Regions from separate parts of the Homo sapiens genome. Here region 1 is linked to region 2. The links come from fine-mapping of genetic effects on gene expression. Tissue or cell type: whole blood. Region 2 holds a variant in brackets; the other region holds the start of a gene. Each region is shown on its reference strand, or each on the opposite one. Region 1 holds the start of THAP3 (THAP domain containing 3). Region 2 has its middle 46 kb from the start of QDPR.

Region 1 (9,630 bases), not on the chromosome of region 2:
CATGTTGGCCAGGCTGGTGTCGAACTCCTGAGCTCAGGTGATCTACCCGCCTCAGCCTCCCAAAGTGCTGGGATTACAGGTGTGAGCCCCCGCACCCAGCCTAATGCCTGTTTTCTAGCAAGACAAGGAGGACGTTGCCACTGTTTGCAAATGATATGCTTGTGATCTGAATGAACCATAGAGTTTACTTCACTGCTTTGGGGCAGTAATTACCTACTTGGATTCTGCAATATTTTGGAATGTCTAGTTTTTTAAGAGTGTCAGGAAATTCTCAAAACTAATTTAAATTCACTTAAAACAATATATCTCTTGGGAGGGCAAATGGAAGGAGAGGTTTTACAATCAGGGAACAATGAGCAGATAGGAGTGGGTGTCCACAGCACTCCTTCCCACAGACACCTGTTGCACACTGATGAATTTTCTGTCTCTAAGATGGGGCTGAGGGTTCAGCAGGGAGTTTCTCTCTTCGTGGCATCACATTAAACTCATGGCACTGATGGCACTGGGTTTTTTTTTTTTTGAGACACAGAATCTCCCTCCCGTTACCAAGGCTGGAGTGCAGTGGCTCACTGCAACATTTGCCTCCCGGGTTCAAGCGATTCTCCTGCCTCAGCCTCCCAAGTAGCTGGGACTACAGGCACCACCACCACGCCCAGCTAATTTTTGTATTTTTAGTAGAGATGGGGTTTCACCATGTTGGCCAGGTTGGTCTTGAACTCCTGGTCTCAGGTGATCCGCCTGCCTTGGCGTCCCAGAGTGCTGGGATTACAGGTGTGAGCCACCACGCCCAGCCAGAACTCATGTTACTGTTGCTTCAAGTGTGATGCTGATGGGCAGAGAAGCTCAAAGTTGTGCAGATGTCTCTGGAGGTCTGACATGGCTGGGTGGCTGGGGATGCTCTGCTCTGGGCTGGATCTTGTCACCAGTAACTGGAATCTGCCACCTTTGTCTTTTTAGGAACTCCCTTTAAGGAGCAGCCCCAGCCCTGCTAACAGCACTGCTGGTACCATTGACAGCGACGGCTGGGACGCGGGTTTCTCAGACATCGCGTCCTCAGTGCCCTTGCCAGTCTCTGACCGCTGCTTTAGCCACCTGCAGCCTACTCTCTTGCAGCGAGCCAAGCCCAGTAACTTCCTGCTGGACAGAAAGAAAACGGACAAGCTGAAGAAGAAGAAGAAGAGGAAGCGCAGGGACAGTGATGCGCCTGGGAAAGAGGGGTACAGGGGGGGCTTGCTGAAGCTGGAAGCCGCTGACCCCTACGTGGAGACCCCCACGAGTCCCACCTTGCAGGATATCCCCCAGGCTCCCAGCGACCCCTGCTCGGGCTGGGACTCCGATACTCCCTCGAGTGGATCTTGTGCCACTGTGTCACCTGATCAGGTCAAAGAAATAAAAACTGAAGGCAAACGGACTATCGTCCGGCAGGGAAAGCAGGTGGTGTTCCGAGATGAGGACAGCACTGGCAATGATGAGGACATCATGGTGGACTCAGGTGAGTGGTCCCTGAAGGATGATGACCCTTGTTGGCTTGTGGTTAGAAGAGAGGTTATTTTATTAAGTGGTCATCTCTCTGGGGCACAGGGTCTGGTGCCTTCCGTAGAGTGTGACAGCCCCACTGTCCAAGGAGGAGAAAAGCTGCAGGAATGTGGATATCGAGATGTTTAGGAAGGGGTTGATTGCCACTAGAGACAGCTGAGATTCTAAGACCTTAGAACATAAAAAGGGTATAGTTCTAAGTAAGCATCCAGGTAAGCATCCAGGCCGGGCACGGTGGCTCCACCAGTAATCCCGGCACTTTGGGAGGCCAAGGCAGGTGGATTGCTTGAGCTCAGGAGTTGGAGACCAGCCTGGGCAGCATGGCAAAGCCCTGTCACTGCAAAAATACAAAAAAAGGCTGGGCGCAGTGGCTCATGCCTGTAATCCCAGCACTTTGGGAGGCCGAGGCAGGCAGATCACGAGGTCAGGAGTTCGAGACCAGCCTGACCAACATGGTGAAACCCCGACTCTACTAAAGATACAAAAAAAAAAAAGAAAAAATTAGCTGGGCGTGGTGGTGCGCGCCTGCAATTCCAGCTACTCAGGAGGCTGAGGTAGGAGAATTACTTAAACCCAGGAGGTGGAGGTTGCAGTGAGCCAAGATCGCGCCATTGCACTCCAGCCTGGGCGACAGCAAAACTCCGTCTCAAGAAAAAAAAAAAAAACAATAGTCGAGTGTGGTGGTGTGTGCCTGTAGTCCCAGCTATTTGGGAGGCTGAGGTGGGAGGATGGCTTGACTGCAGGAGTTTGAGGCTGCAGTGAGGTATGATTGCACCACTGCACTCCAGCCAGGGTGACAGAGTGAGACCCTGTCTTAGGGAAAAAAAAAAAAAAGTAAGCATCTCCTGGGTAATACCTGGTTCCCACACATTTTGGAGCCCCTCGTGCCTTTTCAGAGAGAAGTGTCAGCTTCGAGTGGCAGTTGGAAGTGTTCTCGTCAGTAGAGTTAATGGGTTTCATGGAAGCCCAGCTGATGGCGAGGAATGATGGGAATTTCTCTTCCCTCCTTGAGAGTATCTTTCCTTCCAGATGACGATTCCTGGGACCTCGTGACCTGCTTCTGCATGAAGCCATTTGCCGGCCGCCCCATGATCGAGTGTAATGAGTGCCACACCTGGATTCACCTGTCCTGTGCGAAAATCCGGAAATCCAATGTTCCAGAAGTGTTTGTCTGCCAAAAGTGCCGGGACTCCAAGTTTGACATCCGCCGTTCCAACCGCTCGCGGACGGGCTCCCGGAAGCTGTTCCTGGACTGACTGCTGGCTGGCGAGGAGGCTGCGAGCGTGGAATCGGAAGCGACCGCGGGCTTTTTTGCCCTTCTCTTAGTTGAGCACAGAACCCTCAGCTCTGGTGCGGGCAGATCCCTGCCATTTAGGTGCCTAAGCAAAAGGACAGGCTGTCCAAGGTAGAAACTGTACATAGCCGGTGACCGAATGCGACCTTTGCCAGCCAGAGCTGCTGCCAGAGCTGCGTTCCCTGCAGTGGAGGTGGACTGGACACCCACGTGCAGCGGGTTTGGCTCATTTGAAAATGAGGGTCCGTGGTAGCTGTGCGTTTTGCTATCATTGCTAAGAGATTCCCGCTGATTGGGCTCAGTGCCAGCTGTTATTCTGCTTCCACTGTGTTGGGGAGAGGTGTTCGGTTTCCCCAGCCTGTTAATGAACAGCCATACGTGTAAGCTTTTTCTTGAGTGTTAAGTCTTTTACCAAAAGTGTCTGTACAGCAGCCATCCAAGTTGCCCCTACTTAGTGGCTTGCCCTCTGCCTGCCTCAGCTGCTGCCTGACCGGCTGGGGGAGGCACTGGCGGGAGGCCTCGGGCTCCCCTGGAAGGGCGCTGGGCTGGCGGGTCAGCTGGTGGTTCTTAGGTTTCCTTCTGTTTGTTAAAAGGGACAATGTGGCCACTTCTCTGTGGAAAGGGAGTTGGTTGGGGGGTTGAGATGGCCCGTGTTCATAACTCAGTTTCCTGTTTTGCACGATGTAAAAACCCTGTCTTTTTGCACGATACAGCCAAAAGTATTGGCTGATTTCTTGCTGAGTGCCCTCTTAGTTGGTGTGTGAGGTCTTGGTGGGCTCAGGCCAGCTGTTTGCGAGTGTGGGAACTCATAGGTTCTGTCTTTGTCTCTTCCTTTCACCTCATTCTGGTAGCAGCATAAAGGTTAGGCAATCACTGGGACCCGCATGGTGTTCCTCCAAAGAATAGGGTAAAGGAGAGCTGGGAGGGAGCCCTCTCCGTTGGGTGACTCTTGTGTGCCCTTTAGACAGGCTGGCCTGCCGGTTCCACAGGGTACAGTTAGGACTTGAGTCTTTCTTTTTCTGTTTTGAGTTGGTGAGTGAGTGATAGGGTAACATGGGCCTTCAGGATGACCCCTTGGAACTGTGCCGAGTTCCTTAAATCTCAGCTGGGATCCTGGACCTGGGAGGCCCCTGTGAGGGCCAGCTCTGGAAAAACCTGGGAGTTGATGCCGGAGGCTGTGGAAGAACTCTGCTCGAGGGCAGGGTGCCCTGGAACACTGGTAGTTCTGGGGCTGGGAGGGAGAGGGGCTCCGGCTTTCTCTGAAATGAACACTGCTCTTCAGCAGTTCAAGTACTTGTTCTCAAAACATTTTCTAATTGATTGGTAGGTTTTCATAAGCATTGTTTCTTTAAGGCATGGAAAGGGAAGAATGCTCAAGCAAGTCATGTTTGTTTTCAGTGGGATGGGCCCGCGTTCTCACTGCTGGGGGCTTCCCCTTCATGTGGCACCTTTGTGCCAGGCCACCAGGCAGACTCTTCCCACCTTCTCCCACTGAAGCACCAAGGGGCTTGAACCGTAATTTGGCTAATCAGAGGCATTTTTTTTGTCCTAGTATCTTTCACACTTGTCCAACCGTCTTATTTTTTTAAAAGTTCTGTTGCTTGTATTAACACGAAACTAGAGAGAAATAGTTTCTGAAGCCAGTTTATTGTGAAGATCCCCAAGGGGGAGGTTCGGTAGAGAAAAATAGTAAGCTGGTTTAGAAACTGACGAGGGCAAACAGCCAGGACGCATTGGAGAGGAATTTGCCAAAGATCTACCCTGAGATAACGCCTGTCCAGTGTCTTCACCACGTGAATAACCAGCGCTCCAAAGTGTTTTTCTGCTTTGAAAAAAAAAAATTCCACAAGCTTTTAAAGGTGCATTTAAGAATCCATGTGACTTTAGAATGGAACTGCCGGCCCTGGCAACTGTCACGTGTGCTAGAAGGTTCGATGCCTCTGGAATGCATGTGATACTCATCTCCATTTTGTTTCCTTGATTGCATTTTTGTTCTTTTAGCAGATCTGTCCCTGTGGGTGGTGTCTAAGAAGTCGGACACCTTGGTTTTTGTGTTAGATTGAGCTGGGCAGCTGCAATCAGCTTCTTTATATGCAAATTAGGCACGACCCATCTGTGGTTCCTGGTTGGTGGCTAATGAAGTGAGGGGAGGGAGGGATGTCACCCCAAAAGTAGGCCCTCCCATTGGCTTTGGCCAGGCCAGACACTTCACATCGTTTACATGGTTCTGTGTAATTTTAAAGTTTATGTGTATAAAGCGAAGCTGTTTCTGTGAAACTGTATATTTTGTAAATAAATATATTGCTACTTTGAGGTTCATGATTCAAGGTTCAGGCGATTGCGTTCTGTGCTGAAGGACAATTGTGTTTCTTTTCTCCTTGCTACCTCCCCAAAGCATGATTACATCAAGTCTCTGGGAAGGCAGCGTCTCAGTGTGCACTTAGCAGGATGGAAAATGCCCACGGTGTTAAGGTACCTTGCTGGTGAATTCCTTAGAAACAAACCACAGGACGAGTAGATGTGAATGGTTTTTGCAGTTTCTTCATCAGATTGAGGATTAGCTCAAGCCCCAGTGAGTGGTTAGCCTACTTTTGATTTTTTTTTTGTTTTTGAGACTTGAGTTTCGTTCTTGTCACCTAGGCTGTGAAGTGCTGTGATGAGATTTTGGCTCATTGTAACTTCCACCTCCCGGGTTCAAGAGATTCTCCTGCTTCAGCCTTCCGAGTAGCTGGAATTACAGGTGCCCGCCACCATGTGCGGCTAATTTTTGTATTTTTAGTAGAGATGGGGTTTCACCATGTCGGTCAGGCTGGCCTTGAACTCCTGATCTCAGGTGATCCGCCTGCCTCGGCCTCCCAAAGTGCTGGGATTACAGGCGTGAGCCACTGCGCCTGGCCGATTTTTTTTTTTTTCTTCTTACAAGATGACGCCTTCCCTATAGGCTGCTTTGAGAAAGCTGCAGCCTCGGAGTTTCTGCAAGGCCTGAACTGGAATCTCCCTCCCCTTCAGTTGCCCTTTTTGCCTCTTCACGTTTGGGGGTTCCCTGTGACCAAACTTAAGGGCAGTGAGCTGTCTGGCCTCTGAACTGACACCACCAGTGGCCAACTAGTACCACCTCCAGTGACGTCAGAGGAGTCCAGACCTATTCACAATTCAAAGCCCTAAAAACACTGAGGGGTTGGCCGTTGGTTTCCAGTTGTCCAAGCCTGTGAGTGGCTATGCGTCCTGGTTGGGTGCTCAAAGCAAGGAGGTGAAAGGCGACCAGCATTGGCGAATGGGGTAAGACTTGCACAGGCCCAAGGCTAGGAGTTGGGGTTTCGGGCCTGAATTGGGGCCCGGAGCACCCCTTTACGTGGCGCCCCGGGTCCCGTCCGACCCTGGGGAGACGCGGGTGGCTGGGATGGCAGGATGAGCGCGCCCTGGAGGCGAGCCAGGCCCGTCACCACCTCCCAGCGGCCCCGCCCCTCCCCGCAGGTCCCTCCCCTCTCCGCAGGCCCCGCCGCCGCCGCCATCTTTGTTGGGGGCAGCCAGGCCTGGCTCGAGATGCCGAAGTCGTGCGCGGCCCGGCAGTGCTGCAACCGCTACAGCAGCCGCAGGAAGCAGCTCACCTTCCACCGGTAAGAGGCGGGGACCCGGGGGCGCGGGAGGCCCAGACCCGGGGCCCGCGGACCGACTCCGAGGCCTTGGCGCGCCGGGCGGGAGGCCCAAAGGCGTGCGGCCGCTGGGCCCGGGGACAGGCCGAGGTCCTGGGCCCAGAGGGGCTGGCGCCGCCGCGCCCGCCGCGGGGATGCGGGGAGTGGCGGACGGAGGGGCAGCGGCGCACCTGGCGGGGCCAGGGCCGGGACGTGCAGGGAGCGGAGCAGGTGTTTGCTGAACAGACTAGCGGGCCGCGGCCGGGGTTTGCTGTGTCCCTGGTCGCTGCAGCCCCCGCCGCGCGCGGTCCTGAAGGGAGCCCGGCACCTGGGCAGTGCAGTGGAGGAGTGGAACCCCCAGGGGCGTCCTGGCAGTGGGAAGGGACTCTGCAGGGTCGCGGGAGGACGCTGGAGACTTTGGAGTCTGCTCCAGCACTCGCCCGGCCCGGCCCGGCCCGGCCCAGGAGCAATCGTCATTAGTCACAGTTGCGCTTTCTCCAAGGTCCAGTCACGGCACCATTTCTCTACCCACTTTTGGGCACATTCCGAAGGGGGGCTTGTGCTCATCGTTCCCATTCCCTCTGCTCCCATTGTTCTGTTTTGTGATAAATGCTTTGCTTGAAGTATACGTAATGTACATGCAGAAAAATGCACGAATCATAAGTATACAGCCCAGCGAGTTTTCCCCAAGTGAACGTCACTGAACTGAAACGTTACCAGCTGGGCGCGGTGGCTCAAGCCTGTCATCCCAGCACTTTGGGAGGCCGAGGCGGGAGGATCGCTTGAGCCTGGGAGTTCGAGACCTGCCTGGGCAACAGAAGGAGACCCTACCTCTACAAATAATTTAAAAAAATTAGCCAGGCAAGGTGGTGTGCCCCTGTAGTCCCAGCTGCTCGGGAGACTGAAGTAGGAGGATCGCTTGAACCCAGCTTCGAGGCTGCAGTGAGCTATAATCTTGCCACTGCACTCCAGCCTGGGTGACAGAGCGATACCTCATCTCAAAATAAGAAATAAAACATCACTACCCCCGAGAAGAACCCCTACCTGGACCCCCTCCCAGGCCCTCCTCCTCTCTCCTGCCCAAAGGGAACCCTATCCTGCCCGCTATCAGAGTGGATTGCAGTTCATTCGCTTTCGTTGCCACATAATATTCCATTGAATGCAAGTGCCAGAATTTACTGATTTGTTCTACAATTGAAGGGCATTTGGGTGGCCCCATTTTTTGGATGACAAATACATGGTTCTGGAGGCTGGGCGTGGTGGCTCACGCCTGTAATCCCAGCACTTTGGGAGGCCGAGCTGGGTGGATCACCTGAGGTCAGGAGTTGGAGACCAGCCTGACCAACATGGTGAAACCCCGTCTCTACTTCTCTACTACAAATACAAAAATTACCCGGGCGTGGTAGCGCGCACCTGAAATCCCAGCTACTCAGGAGGCTAAGGCAGGAGAATCACTTGACCCTGGGAGGCAGAGCTTGCAGTGAACCGAGATCGCACCACTACACTCCATCTTGGGCAACAGAGCGAGACTCCGTCTCAAAAAACAAAACAAAACAAACATTGTTTTGGCCAGTTTTGGTGGGACTTGTGTTGCAGTGCATCTATCTGTTTTGCCTCTGTCAGGTATGTACTTGGGGATGGAGTTGCTGCGCCTTCTCTCTTGAAGTCGTTTCCTCCACTCCCACGAGAGCTCTGTCACATCACTAGTGAGCCTTGTGACACTGATCGATTGCATAGCATTTCACACAACTGACCCCTGAGCCTGGGTCACTTTTCCCGCATGGCGTCTGGTACACTTCTTGGCCACAGGTGTCTCTTCTCAGTCTCCTTTGCTGGATCCTCCTTATTTCCAGCACTAAGTGTTGGAGCCCTGGGGTGTGGGCCATGGCCCAGGGGTGGCTTCTAGCCACACTTGCTCCCCAGGGGCCCATCTCACCCAGGCTTATCGGTTCCGCAGGGTTGGCCGCCACACTGACATCTCCAGATGCGTGTGGCCGCCTGTCACCCCAGCACATGGAGAGCCTAAAAAGCACCTCAAATTTAACTCCTGACATAAAAAACAAACTTCTTTTTTTGGAGACAGACTCTCACTCTGTTGCCCAGGTGGAGTGCAGTGGCGCAGTCTCGGCTCACTGCAGCCTCTGCCTCCCTGGTTCAGGTGATTCTTGTGCCTCAGCCTCCCAAGTAGCTGGGATCACAGGAGTGCGCCACCACGCTGGGCTAATTTTTGCATCTTTAGTAGAGATGGGGTTTCACCATGTTGGCCAGGCTGGTCTTGAACTCCTGAGTTGAGGCAGTCTGTCTGCCTTGGCCTCCCAAAGTGCTGGGATTACAGGCGTGAGCCACCATGCTCAGCTGCTACAAAACAAACTTCTGATCCCCTTAACCTGCCGTCCTGTAACTTAATTTTATCTCCAACATGAAACTCCTTCCTTCTCAATTTTACCATCTACAGGCAAACCTTACTGCATGGCTTTCAAAATACATCCAAGTCTGCCCTCTCATTACCACTTCCTGCCAATGCCTGGTCCCACAGCAGCCAGGGTGGACCCAGGTTCCATCTCACCTCTGTCTAGAGCCTCCAGGGACTCCCCAGCTGCTCAGGGCCCTGCGTCATGCAGTCCCCACTCCCTCTCGCTGTCTCAGCTGGACCTGCGTGAGTGGCCGTTCCTGCTGTCCCTTCTGAAGCCTGCGTCGCTTGTGCTGCCACTTCCTGCGGTCTGTGCTCAAACATCACCCCTTCAGCTGCCTCTCCTCACCACCCCAGGGCTTCCCTCTGTCTGTTCTCTGGAGCAGCTGTCATCCCCAGAAGACACCGTCCACATCTGTGTGGCTCATCACTGTGCCCCCGCTCCAGAATATCAGCTCTTGGGGGCCAGGACTGTCTCATTACCCCCCATCCCTAGCACGAAGAACAGGGCCCGGCTCCTGGTAGGCTCCTGGCAAATGTAGCATCGGAAGCAGCTCACTTGGGCTCTCTGGCCATGCTCGTGGTCTCGGGTTTCCTATTAAGAGTGCTTTAACAGCTGTGACAGAAGCTTCCAGAAATTAGATGTGATTTAATAAACCGAGAGGACTGAATGTCCACAGCTGTCCAGGGAAGTACTCTGTAGTGATGTGAAAATTCCGAATGACTCTGAGGCGCTGGGTCCAGCCTTGCTGGGCCTC
Region 2 (9,630 bases):
AAGCAAGATGGAGTTGGTTAGGTCAAATCTCTTTCTCTGTCTGTTTTTTCAGTATTAAGACAAAGGTGGTTTCGGTATTAAGACAAAGGACACTAGCAGGTTACTGAGGGCTATGTGTATTCAGGACACTATACTAGATCTCTTAATGTAGTATTTCGCTTCATCCTCACAATAAATCTGTGAGGTTGAGGCTAGTGCCCCCATTTTACAAATGAAAAACATGAGAATCAGACAGGTGAAATAATTTGTCCAAGATCACATAGGTAGAAACTAAAAGATTTGAGATTTGCACTGTGCTGTCCACTCCACAATCCCATTGCAATTGTAGGTCTTCCTCATAGTTCTGAAATCTAAGATTCTCAAAGGCAGTGACTGCCAGGGTCTGGCACATAGGAGAACTTAATCAATAACTAGTCAATCAGTCTGTCTGGTTCTCAATGCCCACCACCGTGCCACCTCCCTACCAGCTTTATATATGTGCAATTCTGCCTTAAATTTACTTTCTATCCTAACAAGTTCTTGATACATTCATTCTCAGTACACATTTTCTTAAAACTCAAAGTTTTCTTTCTTCTTTTATCCTTCTGCCCCTTGGGAAAGCCCACTCATTTCCCTGCTCAGACAGCTGGTTTGGGAAAGTTGCACGCAGCAAACGGGAACAGCTTACCCACTGAACCACCATGCAGTAACAGGAGCTACATTTGGAATTCACAGTCCAGAAAAATGTCCAGCCTGCTTACAAAGCACCGGTAGAGGCTCAAAGGAAAACAGATACAACATAATCCTTTTCTTTTGCTAAATGACATCCTCATTTACATCCTCACCATATTAATTCTCTTTGTTTCAACTTAACTAAAGTCAAAGACAGCTTCTCAGGAAGTGTTATTCACATGTATTAGACAGCCTAAAATGACAAAATGTTCTAATTCCATTCGTGGATAAAAGTCAATTTGACACCAACACTAAGCTGTTATTTTTCAAATAACAATGGTAATGTTTAATTAGAATTTAACCTGGCTGCTTGCTTTCATTTAACAACGTACAGTACGCTGGTGGTTTCCTGACGAAAGCAAAGATTGACGTCCAATGTAAATGCTGCATTTCAAAAAAAGCTGCACACTACTAGTGTCTAATTATGCATAACACTCTGCCATTAATTACTAATATTTCAAGTGGCTTGGAGGGTTAGCTGGTCTTTAGCCCTTCCTATTATGACCACAGGTAAGCTTAAGTCTTTGTCAGATTATCACAATTGCTTTTAGTGATTACTTCTATAAACCAAGCCTACAAAAACCCTCCTAAATGTTTAATTATATTTCTTGATCTGTTTTAACTAAAAAAGATAATAGAAGAAAGCATCTACCATCATGCCCAGCACATAGTAGTTGCTTAATAAATAGTAGCTATTAACATAGTAAATAATCGGCTGGGTGCAGTGGCTCATGCCTATAATCCCAGCACTTTGGGAGGCCAAGGTGGGCGGATCATCTGAGGTCAAGAGTTTGAGACCAGCCTGGCCAACATGGTGAAACCCCGTCTCTACTAAAAATACAAAAATTAGCCAGGCATGGTGGCAGGCGCCTGTAATCCCAGCTACTCGGGAGGCTGAGGCAGGAGAATTGCTTGAACCCAGGAGGTGGAGGTTGCAATGAGCTTAGATCGTACTATTGTACTCCAGGTTGGGCAACAAAAGCAAAACTCTGTCTAAAAAAAAGAAAAAAAAAAAGTAAATATTCATACTTTTTTACTTGATCATTCATTACCAGAGTCCCGAGCTACTCACTGATGCAGTAAGTTTTCTTTCCTTCTTTCCTCTCTTAGACTCCTGCAGTCCATCGTCTCTAATATCCACTCACTGCTTCATTCATTCATGCCACACACACAGTCACAGAGCACTTGTTCTGTGCCAGGCATACATTTTCTCTAGATACTGATTCCTAATGAAATCTCCCTCTTGGAGACCCCCAATGCATATATTAGAGGCTCTGAGAAGTTTTATCTATCTATCAAATAGAGGATGGATAGATAGATGATAGATAGATAGATAGATAGATAGATAGATAGATAGATAGATAATGGATTAACTTTCAATATTTTCCTTACTTATGGACCTCTTTTTCCATGGACACCTATTACCATCCCAGCACAATGGTGTTCTAAGAAACACACTTTGGGAACAGTGCAGGACCACACCTGACACACTGTAGCACACTCCTGACCAAGATTCTGTCCTCGACCAAACTCTAGCCAGGGCCCTCTGAGCCCTTTCTCTACTAGACCTCAAGGCATGGCCTAGAAAGACTTGAGCAAACACTAACATAGTTTCTAACAGCTCAGCCATATCCCTAGGACAACTCCAGCTTCCTTAAAGTGCCTGCCTGAGAAAACTCCAGGTTGCCAAAAGAATGTACTGTTTGTTCCAGCAACCTGAGGACAGAGCCTGTCTCCCAGTCTCTGTGGGAGGGTAGGAGCCCACCTACATTCAATAAGAGCCAGGCAACAAACCCAGATGGGTTTCACATGGACCAATCTTTTCTTCCTACTTTTTGTAATTTGTCTTTTCTCTGACTCAAATGAGCCCCCAGTTGCCCCCACCCTACTCCAGTCTCCCTTTAAAATGCCCGGTCACCTCCGTACAAATCAAAGTTGAGTTTACACCTGACCTTCTTCCCTATTTCAATAGTATATAGTAGTTAACCCCTTTCTGAGGTTTTATGCTTTCTGGTTTCAGTTACCAGCAACTGTGATCTGAAAATATAAAAAGAAAAATTCCAGAAATAAACAATTCACAAGTTGTAAATTCCATGTCTGTTCTGGCTATCATGATGAAATCTCACACCATCCCACTCTTTCCTGACCTGGACGTAAATCATGTCTTTGTCCAGGGTACTCACGTTGCCTGTGCCACCCACCCACTAGTCACTCAGTAGCAATCTGGGTTATCAGATCAAAAAAACAGTATATAGGTGATATGGTTTGGCTGTGTCCCCACCCAAATCTCATCTTGAATTCCCACATGTTGTGGGAGGAACCCAGTGGGAGGTAATTGAATCCTGGGGGCAGGTCTTTCCCGTACTGTTCTCATGATAGTGAATAAGTCTCATGAGATCTGATGGTTTTAAAAAGGAGAGTTTCCCTGCACAAACTCTCTTCTCTCTTCGCCCGCCACCATCCATTTAAGATGTGACTTGCTCCTCCTTACCTTCCGCCATGATTGTGAGGCCTCCCCAGCCACGTGGAACTGTAAGTCCATTAAACCTCTTTCCTTTGTAAATTGCCCAGCCTCTGGTATGTCATTACCAGCAGCATGAAAACTAATACGATAGGGTTTGGTACTATCTGTGGTTTCAGGCATCCACTGGAGGTCTTGGAAGATAACCCCTCAGATAAGAGAAGACCACTGTATTACTGATTAATATCTGTCCATACCACATTAACTGGTGTCTGACTTTGTTTATCTTTGCCACTCCACCTAGTTCTCCACACATGAAAAGCCCTAAGGGAAGACTCATTAAAATTGATACAGGAGGATCTAGTTAATGCAATGAGGTCTAGGTGAGAATTGAGACTATCCTGTTTCCAAAAAGCAGGAAACAGGTATGTTTGTCCAAGACAACAAATTCCAGAACTGGCCTTAGAGTCCCACAGATGTAACTAAAATCCCAATTGGTCCATTGTGAAACCAACTTATCTGGGTCTCAGAGGTCCCAGTGAGGATTAACTGAGATAATGCTGAGGAAGACCAAAGCCTCCCCTGAGATATTTGCGATGCTTTACTCTCACAGTTGCCTTTGCCTATGCCTAGCTACTCAGCCTATGCATCACAGTCTGTCCCTCAAGATACAGATAAGGAAATCAGCCTTTCCTTTAATAGGAGGGAGCAAGGAGGCAGGGATAAAAATTTTAACCAGTGGGCCAGGCACGGTGGCTCACACCTATAATCTCAGCACTTTGGGAGACTGAGGCAGGAGGATCACTTGAGTTCAGGAGTTCAAGACCAGCCTAGACAACATAGTGAGACTTCCTCTCTACTAAAAATCAAGAAAATTAGCTGGGTGTGGTGATGCGTAACTGTGGTCCCAGCTACTTGGGCGTATGAGGCAGGAGGATCACTTGAGACCAGGAGTTCGAGACTGCAGTTTGCCCCGCTGCACTCCAGTCTGGGCAACAGAGTGAGACTCTATCTCAAAAAAAAAAAAAAAAAAATTTAACCAGGCCGGGCACAGTGGCTCACACATGTAATCCCAGCACTTTAGGAGGTTGAGGCGTGCAGATCACTTGAACTCAGGAGTTCAAGACCAGCCTGGCCAACATGGTGAAACCTCGTCTCTACTAAAAACACAAAAATTAGCTGGATGTGTAATCC[C/T]AGTTACTCAGGAGGCTGAGGCATGAGAATTGTTTGAACCCGGGAGGCAGAGGTTGCAGTGAGCCAAGATCATGTCACTGTACTCCAGCCTGGGCTGCGACTCAGAAAAAAAAAAAATTAACCAGTGGAGGCCAGTAATTTTTTCAACCCATGCATGCACAGGCACACACACACACACACACACACACACAGCATTTTTATAGATTTTTTCCAAGCATGAGATGAAACAAAGGAGCAGTTCCATGGCAAGAATGAAAATAACTCCAGATTAAATATCAGACACCCTGTTCTTTAAGAGTTCCTCTGCCTCCCACCACCTCAGCAAAGCTATGCATTCTCCTTTGCTCTCTCCTCACACTTTTATGCAGAGCCAGTCCGCTCTTTGTGGCCTCAACCCCCGAATTTGATTCCAGGTCTACCAGCTCTCCGAAAGACATTCCCATAGAAGCCCTCATGAACAGGCAAGTATGCTCTCAAATAGCAAAGTTTTCCTCTGCCTAAGCCTGCACCTACACAGATCCCAAGAAAGCCAACTTCAAGTCCAAAAATGGCCCATAAGGAGGCAGCTGGAGTGTAAAGCAGAACTCCCCAATCTCCAATCACTCAAACATGAGCTGCCTGAGTTTCCCCATACACCACATATTCATACCATGTCTACTAGAATGATAACTGCCGAAAGATGCTTGTGTCCTAATTCCCGGAACCTGTGAATATGGCACCTTACATGGCAAAAGGGACTTTGCAGATGTGATTAAAAGGATCTCGAAAAGGAGAGATTATTCTGGATTTCCTAGGAGGGCCCAATGTAATTATAAGGCTCCTTATAAAAGGGAGGCAGAAGGGTCAAACTCAGAAAAACCAGGTGTGTTGTGAGGATGGGGCCCTAAGCTAAGGAAGGCAGGCAGCTTCTAAAAGCTAGAGAAAGCAAGGACTCAAGTTCTTCCCTAGAGCCCTCAGAAGAAATGCAGCCCTGGCAACACCTTGATTTTAAGACTTCTGTTTTTGTTTTTTGGGGTTTAGTTTTTTGAGATGGAGTCTCGCTCTGTTGCCCAGGCTGGAATGCAGTGACACGATCTTGGCTCACTGCAACCTCCACCTCCCAGGTCCGTGCAATTCTCCTACCTCAGCCTCCCAAGTAGCTGGGACTATAGGCATGAGCCACCATGCCTGGCTAATTTTTTGTACTTTCAGTAGAGACAGGATTTCACCACGTTGGCCAGGCTGGTCTCGAACTCCTGAGCTCAAGTGATCCGCCTGCCTTGGCCTCCCAAAGTGCTGGAATTACAGGTGTGAGCCACTGTGCCCGGCCACCATGATTTTAAGACTTCTGGCCTCTGTAACTATAAGATGATCAATTTGTATTGTTTTAAACCAATAAGTTGGTGGTAATTTGTTACAGCAGCAATAGGAAGCTAATACACTATATACATTACATTATGTAGTGTATTCCTCAGGTAATGTTTATTTTTTATGCACTGTCTACTTATCCTCATCCTCACAATAATATCCATGTATTCATGGTTTTGATGTGGTTGCTATGTATTTTCCTAATACACATCAAAATAAACAACAGAGCGAGACTCTGTTGTTTATGATTATTAAATAAGAAGCGTTCACCTGTGTCCCTCCCCATACCCCCGGTACACCTGCCCCGAGGGCACAGTGTGGATCCCACTTTGGAAAATTCTGGTGCAAAGGGACGCTCAAGGCCCTCAAGATGGGAAACCAGAGTTCCACGCCTGGCTCTTCCACTGATGGCCTTGAGCGGGTCACTCTGAAACTCCTGCTCCCTAGCACTCTCCTCTGTACAGGGGTTCCATAGAATTTCTTGTTGGACCGCAGCCCTCTGCTGTCCACCAGGATTACCCAGGACAGTCGGTGGCTGAGCAGAGAGTCAGCCAAGGGTTTCCATTCCCTGGGCCCTTAAACCCATTCCTCTTACCTGAGTTCTCCAGCTTGAACCCCCCACGCCACCCCACCCTGTACATGGAGTCAGAAAGCTGAAGTTTAGAGCAATGACAACCTCTCTCCACTCCTCTTTTTCCCTCCGGAGCATCTACGCATCAAGCCTGGATGACATCAAAGAAAAAAAGCTGCTTCACGTCTCCCTCCACCCTCCGTCGGTCACTCTGAATCACACTCACATAGAGAGAGGATCAGCCAACCACTCCAGTGTGGTTTAAAGGCAGGAACACTACAGTAGAAGTTCAAAAATCTGGTTTAAATATGGCTTCATGACCTGCCAATCCGGTGACCTTAGCCTCTCTGATACTCAGTTTCCTCCTTTGTAAACAGGGAAAATCTGACTTAGCTCAAACTATGAGTATGAAGATTCAATGAAATAACATAGGCTCAATCTCACAGCACCAAGCCTGATACATGGTAGGTATTCAGCAAATGTCACCTGAGCCTAAATTGGAATCAATAACCATTTCCAAAGTGTGCAGAGGGGACGGACACTGTACAGGGACTCCTGATACGTGACGGCAGGGCACAGACCTTTTCCCATGGCTGGCGGACATACTGAGGTCTACACTGCTGTTGCGATGACTGTTGCTGTTTGTGTGCTGTTGTTTGAAGGTGGATTGGGCTTTCACGATGTTGCAAACTTGGCGATGTTTAGGAAGCTGCTACTATTACATTGGTGCAAAAGTAATAGCGGTTTTTGCTATTGCTTTTAGTGGCAAAAACCGCGATTACTTTTGCACCAACTTACACATTTTTGAACCTATTTCCACTTCTGTGAAGTAAGCCAGAGAAATGAGGGGAGAAAGGGTGAGGGGAAGAAGACAGGAAGGCAGGAAAGGAGCGAAAGGCAAAGTGAACAGCAGCAGGTCTCCAGTGCTTGGGGTGACTTATCGATCTCAGATCCACTCACAGGGCTGAGCAGAGGCCCCACTAGGCAAAGAAAACTGAACCAAGTTTCCCACGCTAGTTTTCCAAGACGAATTGTCTCATCGGCTGCCAATGCCTGCCCCCTTGCAGAAGTTCTTCAAACTGCTTGTATTTTTATTTATTTATTTATTTATTTATTTATTTATTTTTAATGCCAGGACACTTGGAAAGGCTCACAATGAGAAAATGTTTTAAGCTTCCAGAGGTTCCCCGTTGCCTAAAGATAAAAACCACCTGACAGAGATCCTTCATGATGCAGCCCCTGCCCACGAAGACACCTCTCCTCCATGCACTCCCCGCCAGCACTTTATCCTGTAATGATAACAAGCTCCATAGTTCCCCAATAATTAATTGAGTTGATAAGAGGCCAACTTGGGAATGAGATAGACCAGAGTTCAAAATTCTGATGCTTTTTCCTCTAGCTGTGTGGCTCTGGGTAAGTTATCTAACTCACGGCTGGGCACCGTGGCTCACGCCTGTAATCTCAGCACTTTGGGAGGCTGAGGCAGGTAGATCACCTGAGGTCAGTAGTTTGAGACCAGCCTGGTCAACATGGTGAAACCTTGTCTCTACTAAAAATACAAAATTAGCCAGGTGTGGTGGCACACGCCTGTAGTCCCAGCTACTCGGGAGGCTGAGACAGGAGAATCACTTGAACCTGGGAGGCAGAGTCTGCAGTGAGCCGAGATCATGTCACTGCACTCCAGCCTGGGCAAGACAGAGTGAGACTCCATCTCAAAAAAATAAAATAAAAGAAAGAAAAGATATCTAACTCTCTCAACTTGTTCCTCATCTTTAAAATGGGAATAATAACAGCACTTACCTCCTAGGGTTGCTCTAGAATTAAATTAGAATTAAATGAGGTAACGCATGAAAAGCATCTTCTAAGGGTGCTTTATGCCCCATGCACTTTAGCTGCCAAGGGTAAATGCAGCCTGTTCTTTCTTTTCTTTTTTTTTTTTTTTAATTATACTTTAAGTTTTAGGGTACATGTGCACAACATGCAGGTTTGTTACATATGTATACATGTGCCATGTTGGTGTGTTGCACCCATCAACTCGTCATTTAACATTAGGTATATCTCCTAATGCTATCCCTCCCCGCTCCCCCCACACCACAACAGGCCCCAGTGTGTGATGTTCCCCTTCCTGTGTCCATGTGTTCTCATTGTTCAATTCCCACCTATGAGTGAGAACATGCGGTGTTTGGTTTTTTGTCCTTGCGATAGTTTGCTGAGAATGATGGTTTCCAGCTTCATCCAGCAGCCTGTTCTTTCTACCCCTGAGCCATTCACTTAACAAGCGCTTATTATGCATTACTTGGATGACAAAGGAGGCATAGTCCCTGCTTTAAAGAACTTGTAGTTGAGTGAAGAGACAGAAATATAAACAAGTAACTATTATACTCTTAATTTGACAAAGGCAGTGTTTGAGTTAAATATAGCTTGTGTCCCTCTCAAGTCAAGCAAAACCTAAGATAAGGGATTGTATGAACTAATTTATTTAAGGAAGTGGTCCTCGGAAGCAGAGTTGGGGACTAGGGGCATAGGAAGAGTGAAACAGGGCAGGAGGGAAAGCCAACACACATTTTATTATGTTGGTGCAAAAGTGATTGCGGTTTCTGGTATTACTTTCAATGGTAAAAACCGCAATGACTTTTGCAGCAACCTCATACCAAGCTGCATCACGTTCTAAGTAACTGGGAATGATGCCACTAGAGGCTGTCTAAGGAGTGGTGAAGAGTGATGTGCCTCATTCTGACACATCGTCAGAAGGACAGGAGGGGAACATTCGTCCACCAGCCCGTCTCCCAGTGGTCAAGTGTGTTGCCCCTTGGAGCATTAACTCTCCACCCTCCCAGGTTTGCGCATGTGTGAGTGCCTGGCACATTTCTGCAGACATCCCATTCCTCAATGTCAGGCAAGCCCAGAGGCAGAAAGCGAGGTAGGCAGGACAGCCAGGGACATGCGGTCAGCTTGCACTTGCTCAAAGCTGGTGGCCCCAGCCATGACTGGAATAAAATGTGGGCAGGGAGGATGCAAGGCGAGGCACAAGAGGTGGCCAATGACGACACAGGAAACTGTCGGTAGGAGGGGCACCTGACCCAGCCCAGCCTTTGGGCAAAGGGATGGGATTTTATCAGATAAGGGTTCCTGGAACGGATGACTATGCCAGGTCTAGGAGGAGTTAGCTGAATCAAGGTGGAGAAGAGGAGAGAAATGGCTGGGCTAAAGCAATGGAGGAAGGTGGAGTGCAGAGGCAGGAGGAGGGCAGGTTCAAGGAATAATTAGGGGGTACAATTGTCAGGGCGAGGCGAGGGACGGGATGATGAGTGGGGAGTAAGAGTGGTTGTGGATAACGTGGTTTCTG

What was found. PIP is the estimated chance that this variant, and not a neighbour inherited with it, causes the effect. A credible set is the group of variants that fine-mapping cannot tell apart.
Region 1: it holds the start of THAP3, and the variant in region 2 is the best candidate, but not a certain one, in a credible set for the expression of THAP3 in whole blood (TOPMed, PIP 0.51).

What each region holds. Positions count from the first base shown.
Region 1 is chr1:6,618,846-6,628,475 of GRCh38, forward strand. It overlaps THAP3 (THAP domain containing 3), which reads left to right and starts at 6,023. Exons shown (of 6, transcript NM_001195753.2): 1 at 6,023-6,109; 2 at 6,305-6,447. The coding sequence starts at 6,374. PHF13 (PHD finger protein 13) reads left to right here. Exons shown (of 4, transcript NM_153812.3): 3 at 958-1,492; 4 at 2,566-5,185. The coding sequence ends at 2,792. RefSeq lists a silencer at 6,414-6,823.
Region 2 is chr4:17,461,504-17,471,133 of GRCh38, forward strand. No RefSeq gene overlaps it. Among named protein-coding and RNA genes, the nearest start is that of QDPR, 46 kb to the right of the region's middle. RefSeq lists an enhancer at 9,229-9,630. The variant C/T (reference allele first, on the strand shown) is at 4,367.